Linked DNA regions of Homo sapiens: all the other regions are linked to region 2. The links come from fine-mapping of genetic effects on gene expression. A gene starts in region 2. Each other region holds a variant in brackets. All regions are shown on one strand. Distances are from middle to middle.

What was found. PIP is the estimated chance that this variant, and not a neighbour inherited with it, causes the effect. A credible set is the group of variants that fine-mapping cannot tell apart.
Region 1: its variant is the best candidate, but not a certain one, in a credible set for the expression of CDCP1 in esophagus muscle (GTEx, PIP 0.56).
Region 3: its variant is the best candidate, but not a certain one, in a credible set for the expression of CDCP1 in esophagus mucosa (GTEx, PIP 0.83).

What each region holds. Positions count from the first base shown.
Region 1 is chr3:45,118,746-45,121,425 of GRCh38, forward strand. All of the region lies in intron 1 of CDCP1 (CUB domain containing protein 1), which reads right to left. Among named protein-coding and RNA genes, the nearest start is that of CDCP1, 26 kb to the right of the region's middle. The variant GC/G (reference allele first, on the strand shown) is at 1,523.
Region 2 is chr3:45,144,939-45,147,618 of GRCh38, forward strand. CDCP1 (CUB domain containing protein 1) reads right to left here and starts at 1,440. Exons shown (of 9, transcript NM_022842.5): 1 at 1,268-1,440. The coding sequence starts at 1,349.
Region 3 is chr3:45,113,111-45,115,790 of GRCh38, forward strand. All of the region lies in intron 2 of CDCP1 (CUB domain containing protein 1), which reads right to left. Among named protein-coding and RNA genes, the nearest start is that of CDCP1, 32 kb to the right of the region's middle. The variant C/T (reference allele first, on the strand shown) is at 1,475.

The DNA of each region.
Region 1 (2,680 bases), 26 kb before region 2:
CTGAGAAGAAGGGTGGTGCAAAATGACAGTTCCGACCTTAGCAATGAAAAAGAACCAGGATGCTGCCAGCTGGTCACTGACATGTGTTTCTTGTTTGGATTATTAATTTTTCTACAAATTGAAAACACTATACCACATTCTAGATGTCTTGAGCAGTATGCTGTTAGATATCCCATCTGAGCAGTATTAAATAACAACCAGAGTAACCACCACACCTTTTCTCAACATGACAGTAGAACAAAGTCTACACACAGAAACCATCCATCATAGGGAGACACATTTATCTGCAAAGAGCTGCTGTCCCTTGCCCTGGGTGCTTTATATGCCCAGCACATACACACATACACACGTACGTACATACATACATATGTATGTACGTATGGTAGTGGGGGCTAGAAAAACATTTGCAGAAATTAGATATAATCATATTATATCAATGAATTTGGAAAGTTAGAGCAAAACAATGCTATTATCTCAGATTGGGGTTTAGAAAAAACACCTGAGCAAACAGTATCAAGCAAGTGAGGTGGGGGTTGGTTATTAAACAGAATTGTACAAATGTCAGAGTAGGGCTCTGGTTCACAAACAAGCCCAATCTCCTTCCCATTTGCTTTGCTTGATTGATTAAGTGCTCTTAGACCAAGAAGGGAGAGCCACTTTCTCCTTAGCTGACACTGCCCCTGCCCTATCTTGGATTCTGATTATGAGTCTCCGGGCAGCTGATGGCCTGGGAACAGCAGATGATGGGAAGATCGTCTGTAGGTAAATCCTGTGGAGGGAGCCTAGGGGCTCACAGTTCATGTAGCACCATGTTCTGGTACAAACAGCTGGTCGGGATCTGTTATCGTGCTGGCACACAAATGGTGCTTGATAAACAGTTAGTGAATGAATAGCAATCTAATCAGAAGCTTTTGTTTCCCATCTATTCTTTTTTCCCTCCTTGTAAAAATTTATTTTTAAAAAATCAACCTTATTGACAGTAATTTACACACATTAAAAAGGACTCACTCATTTTGAGAGTTTTGACAAATGTATACACTCATGTGACCACCACAATCAGGATATACAAATATTTTCCTCACCCTCAAAAGTTCCCTCAGTGCCCCTCTGCAGTCAACCTCCACTCCAAGTCCTAGAAAACTGTCAATGAGTTTGTCCTGCTCTGGACCTTCATGCAAATGGAAGCCTATAGTACTTTCTCTTTTGTAGCTGGCTGCTTCTGCTCAGCATGCTTGTGAGATTCACCCACGCTGCTGCATGGGTCAGTAGTTTCCTCCTTTTTATTGCTGAGTACTATTCCATTGACAGAATAGGCCATGATTTATTTATCCATGCACCTGCTGAATGACATCTGAGTCCTCTTCAGTGTTGGACGAGCCATGTGCTATAATTTTACCATAACTGCTAGCCTGCACAAGACTGGATGTACTTCTGCCAGCTGCCATGAGTGAGCATGCTGTATTCCCACAGCTCAGCAGCTGTATGTGATCACACATTTGGATTTCTGTCACCCTTTTCTTGT[GC/G]CTCTCTCTCCATTCTACACTCTGCTCCAACCCCACTGGCCAGCTGCTCCTTACATAGTATGGAAATTGATCTCCCAACCTTATATGAACTGTAAATATTTTCCCCAGTTTATCGTTTGCCTTTTGACCTCACTTAGAATGGTTTTTCAGGTATGAACTTTACCCTCTTTGGGCCTCTGTTCCTTCATTGTAAAATGAAGGGGTGGGGCTAGAATAACTCTACACTCCCTGCCAGCTCTGAGTCTATGACTATTACCTGAGTAAGTAGGAAGCGACTTTGTAACTGGAAGAATTCCCAACTACTGCTCAGAAATGACATATCTCTCTGGGCACCAGGGCACTGCCATGGCCAGTTTTATGACTGCAAGAGTGCTTAGATTTCCATTTTTGGGGCAAAACTTCTTGTCTTTCTGGCTTCTGCGTGTAACCCTCTCCACCTTAGTCACTGTGTTCAGGCCAGTCTTGCCTTCTTTCTTGAACACACCAACCTCTTTCCCACCTCAGGGCCTTTGCACATGCTGGTCCTGACACCAAAAGTGCTTTCTCTAGAAAAAGCTGGCTCCTTGTTGTCATTCCGGTCTCAGCACAAAGGTCACATTTTCAGAGTGGCCTTCCCTGACCAGCCCACCTAAAGTGCTCCCCTCCCCCCACCACTTCAGTCCTCCTGAACCCTGCGCTTGATGTCCGTGAGCTCCTACAGGAGGCAGCAGGAACTTGCCCGTATTTTTTAGTGGTAGCCCCACGACCAAGGCAGTGCCTGATCCCCACGAGGAGACAAAACGTTTTAAGCCCCAAAACAACTCCATATAAAACTATTAGTCCCTGTGTGCTTGTCTTCACCGCATTTAATTTCTCATAGACATACTACCATTCCCATATTTTACTTTCGGCTAATAAATCCTGGCAAGAACAAGGGACTATGCATCTTTTAATTAATAGCTTGAGAGAGAATATATTCTCAGGGGCAGAAGTTTTATTTGCTCAAATGCTTGGTCTTCAAGCAGTGTGGCCATTTAGAATCTTCTGAGGCTGAGGAGTTCCTCAAGATGTCAGATTAAAAATGAATCCAGATCTATGTTCAGAAACCCAGTTGCCAGGTTTATATCTGAGCTGTATATTACAACTCTTGTGTTCTTTTTCTGTAATCATGAAAACGT
Region 2 (2,680 bases):
GCTCGAGACCAGCCTGGGCAACACAGTGAAACCCTGTCTCTACTTTAATATATATAATTTATATATATATTTATAAATCCATGCCATGGTTTAAATGAAGTTTTAAATTTTCTATCTACTATGCAGCAATATGTCACCTGATGTTGGAGAATGAACCAGGAAGTATTCCTGGAGCTTATATTGATATTTTAGAAGCTCCTGTCTTGTATTTGTAAAGACGGCAGTCACCGGGACGCCCAAATTCAACCTCACTTGCGTCCTTTTATTCCTTTATCTAATTTACACCTGCCAAACACAAATCCACCCTAGATGCAGCAAGGGGAATCAAACCCACATGGCTTCCTGGAGAGCTCTATTTAAAAAACACAAAACCTGTACTAATCTCGCGAAACCTGTACTAGCCTCACATCAAGTTCTTACATGAAGAAACCAGGTTATTTACTACGTTCTAATACATCCAGGGCCCACAGGGCATTTCCTGGCTGGCACAGGTCACTGGGACGTGTTGGTCCCTTCCCCCAACCGAAACAACTCGAAATTCACACATATCCCCGGAACAACAGCCTCCTGCCCTCAAAGTCCACTGCCAAAAAGTGCGAGGGGCGCGGGAATGTCCAGTCTCTGCGGTGGCGCAGATGCCTGGCGGCTTTCTCTGGGACCCCCTAAAAGAAATCCGGGCGCTTTCATTTTTGCACCAACGCTCTTCAACTTTAGGAGAGGGGGAATGCAGCGTGCGGACGGGAAAAAGGGGATCTAGTGGGAAATGCGGACGTGAAAGCACTTTTTTTGCACCTTCTCTCTGGACCAGGCGAGGAGGTAGAGGGCGAGCCTGGAGAGGAAAGATCTCTTCCCACACCCTGCCTGGGTGCTTTCAAGAATCCCGGCAAAGACCCTGGGGCGCACGGCGCGCCACCTTGGACATGTCGCCTGGGATCGGCTACCGGGAGCTCCTTTTCCCGCCTTCTCGGCCAGCACCGGGCTCATCCTCCCGGACCGGGAGGCTCCCCGATCGGGGACACTCTCACGTGCCGAGGGCAAGGTTGACTCCAGGAGGGCAAGGCCCACGCGCCCGACGCGGCGCGCGCAGGAACCGAACAGTCCGGGGGTCCCGGAGCCACCCGCGCATTTTGACTACGCCGTCCCCGCCCTCTCTCCGCACCCTCCGCACCCTCCGCACCCTGCGTCCCTCGGCCGCATCTCCGCCGGGCGTCCGCTGGCTGGCTAGCTCACCACTCCACGCCATCCGCCTCCAAAGCCCGGCACTCACCTGCCCCGCGCGGCAGGCGCGCCGCACCCAGCAGCAGAACCCCTAGCAGTGCGATAGAGACCCCGCAGTTCAGGCCGGCCATGACTCCGGGACGCCTCGGCCTCGGTGGGGAAAACGACGGTGGGGAGCGGCGGCCCCAGGCGCCCAAGCCCGGCGCAGCTGCGCTCCGCCCTGGCTCACTCACCTGCGCGCGGGCGGACCGGCCCGAGCCCCGCCCTGCGCAGCAGGATCGCGAGCTGACCCGGTGCGTCCCTCCTCTCTCTCCTCCTCCTCTTCCTGCCTCAGCGACCGCCTCTCCCTCCCAGGGTGCAGGGCTCCCGGCACCGGGTTGCTGGGTCCCTACTACTCCCCATTGCGGCGTTGGAGCGGACTTGTCCCCACCTTTCCGGGCTTAGTCTTCCTTCCCAAGTCTGAGAATGATGAGGTCTTTTTCTCCAGAGTCGCGAAGGTCGCCCATAGAGGAAGCCAGTCTACCTTCCCTTTTCTGTCGAGGAGACAAAGGCCATTATGCGCCTCGTTTTGGAGAAGAATCCTATTTGTGGGCCACCCAAGCCCTGGATCCTCTGCTACTTGACTTGGGCCAGAGGTCTGTTGGACTTTAAAGCCGGTGGTGGTACAGCTAGTATTTGCAGGACGGTGAGCCTGCAGCCTACTCCACACACATCACCTGCAGTATTTCCAGACACGCAACGTGTCCAAGGTCCCCAGGGTAGCTAGTAAATTAGAGGCAGATGCACCACTTCGTTGAATTGTGAGTAGAGTAGTATGCATCCCTTCACTGAGCTGTGGATGGAGTAGTATGTGCCCTTCTCGAGTTGTATTATAAATGGAGTAGTGTGTGCAGTGTGAGCGTGAAGCATTCAGGTCAAACGTTGGGCTGGAAAATGAATGAAAAATGAATGGCGCTGGACTCCTTTTCCAAATCCTCCCAGCCGCAGGTGTGCCACCTGCCTGTCTTCAGAGGCCCTGTGGGTTCTCCTTCCACCCTGCCGGCCATACACCAAGTCCAGGCCACAGGCAGAGATTGCGGATGGTTCAGGAGTTCTTAGCTAGCAGACCTGGGTTCTGCCAGAATGACTCCCTGGGACTACTTGTGTTCATGGATAGCCAGAAGCTGGGCCAGAGTCACCCGGAGCAACCTGGGAGGCTTGGGACAGGAACCAAAGCATGTGCGACAGCATCAGTTTACAGTCCAGTCCCAACTTCTGCTTAATTCTTGCGGGCACTGAGCCTCTCCAGGCTGCCCCAATCCTCCTTGTGGACAGGGGTGGGAAATCATCTCCTAGGAGCGTCACCCCTTCCTTCTCGATGTCCTTAATCATGAGAATAGAGCTAGCTCTGCCCTCTGGGAGCCCACAGTCCATCGAGGGAGGCAGAACTTGGAACATGACCCTGCCCACACCCCCACCTCTG
Region 3 (2,680 bases), 32 kb before region 2:
AGTCACGATTTCACAATTTGTAGAGCACAGTGCCAAGATCCATCCTTTAAAACTGGTTTCCCCATCAACACATTCATCAACATAGCAAATATACTCTGAACGTGCAACTCCCCTGGACAGCTGGAATCTGGCGGCGCCATTTCTCTTCTTGCACTGCCTTAATGCTGATATTTTATAACCACTGCAGTTGAATTTCTTTTTTTAAGGCTAACAGCTAATAACATCCTTTGATATATTTGTTTCCTAAGCCTTTTAAAACAAAGCAAGAAATATTATCAAAGAGAAAACAAGAGGAAAGTGAGGGGACGAAACAGAAAGTAGGCAATGTAACATTAAGGTTTTGTTGTTTTGAGCAGGGGGCATCTGAAAGGTGTGATAGACTCTGGCCTCCATAATAATAATTTGTGAATCTTTACTGCTGTTCTATTGGGGTATTTGAAAGTATTGTCCACTCAAAATAGAATTATGGAGAATTTCAGATCAGTCTTGGATCTCTGAGGTCATCCAAGCCAGACCTCTAATTTTTGCAAAGCAGCTGTGGATCCAGGTGACTTGGGCTGGCACTTGCAGCAAGTACACGGCAATTCCAGATCCCAGGACGAAAGCTCAGGCTGTGTTTGGTCAGCCCTTTCTTGCCAATGCGCTATGCTGTCTAACCAATAACACAGGGTTAGATAACATGGTGACTAACGTGACTAAAATTAGACTTTGCGTGTTAGTAAAGGTAGTTCCTATTTTAGGAGCTCATGGAAACTTCAATGTTTATATCAAGCCACCTCTTTCTTTCAAAAGCAGACCTCAAGTGATTTTCCACGCACACCTCCAGTGTGCCCAGGGCAACATCAGTTGGCTCTGGCTAGGTTCTGTACTCTTGTGGAAACATTTAACTCTAGTAAGGCAGTGACTCTTAGCTCTGGTTCTACCTACAACTCACCTGCAGGCCGTTTAAAAACTACACATGCCTGGACCATCCCAGGGATTCTGATTTAATTCTATAGTAAAATCTGGAGTCAAAAAGCCCCATCTCCCAGCCTCAGCTCTGTCAGCAGCCATGTGACACTGTGAGAGTCAGGTTATGAAAGCAATTTTTCATTTGATGCTAAGAGCTTTGTTTTTTAGGATGAACACACAGGTAAGAGTAGTCAAAATGATTGGCATGCCTCGGAATCTTCTCCTGTACTCTGTCCAGTGAAAACATTTTAAATAACTAAAATGATTCCTGTCCAGAGGATGGAGAAGTATTATTTCTGAAGTGATTCATAAACTCATTTTCCCCAGCAGATTTCTAATTTCATTAACTCTCTTTTTTTTTTTTTTCTTTTTGGAGATGCAGTCTTGCTCTGTCACCCAAGCTGGAATGCAGTGGCACCATCTTGGCTCACTGCAACCTGTCTCCCAGGTTCAGGTGATCCTTCTGCCTCAGCCTCCCAAGTAGCTGGGACTATAGGTGTGTGCTGCCATGCCTGGGTAATTT[C/T]TTTTGTATTTTTAGTAGGGGTTTCACTATGTTGACCAGGCTGGTCTTGAACTCCTGACCTCAGGTGATCCATCTGCCTCAGCCTCCCAGAGTGCTGGGATTACAGGCATGAGCCACCATGCTCAGCCAACTTTCATTAGTTCTCATGGAACTATTCAAGAAGAGATGAGAATGGAGACATCAAATTTTATCTGATGCTGATTTCAGAATGATTGTTCAGAAAAGGCAATGAAGGGCAGGTGGACCACTGGACCTGATTCAGTGTCTAGATTTATTATTTTAGAAATTGATATTTTCATATCATTTTCAAAAGTTGTGAGCATGGGTTTTTACTACATAGTAAGCCATGTGGGCATCCTAGGATTGAGAGACTGAATGCATTCAAAGGCTTGACTTGTGAAATGTGTCACTTGTTACATTTTTCCTTTTTCAAAGTGGAAGTCACTTTATTGGTTTAACTGATTATAAAAGTAATGTACAGTCGTTTTAAAAACAAACAAAAAGACAAGTGGGTGTGGTGGTGTGTGCCCAGCTACCCCAGAGGCTGAGGTGGGAGGATCACCTGAGCCCAGGAGGTTTGAGGCTACAGTGAGCTGTGGTCACCACTGCACTCCAGCCTGGGTGACAGAAAAAAAAAAGGTGGGGGTGGGGTGGGGTGGGGCGGGGAAGTACAGAAAAGTAGAAAGAAGAAAATGTCACCTGTTCCCCTCTGCCATCCCCTATAGAGTAGTATAAAGTTAGAATTTTGGAGTTTTGGAGTTTATCCCTCCAGACTTTGGGTTCTGTATGATTGTGTGTGCATGTTTGTGTGCATGTATGTAAGTGTGCATGTGCACATGTGTGTATTTAATAGAGTAGCATCAAACTATATAAACTATTGTCCTACTATAAGCTGCATTGTTTTTAATGGAACAAAACTATTTTGGGCATCTTTCTATGTCAAATACACAAACTTACTTCATTCTCTTAGTAGCAACACACCATTCCACTGCGTTCTTAAATATATCAACGTTCTCTTTAACTCTGTAAAAGCTTCATTAAAATTTTAATTATAATTGACTTAAATTGATAAATTAATATAGGGGAGAATTTACACTTTAAAAATACTTAGTATTTCTTTTTTTTTTAAATTTTTTTAAGACAAATTCTCACTCTGTCATCCAGGCTAGAGTGCAATGGCACAATCTCGGCTCACTGCAACCTCTG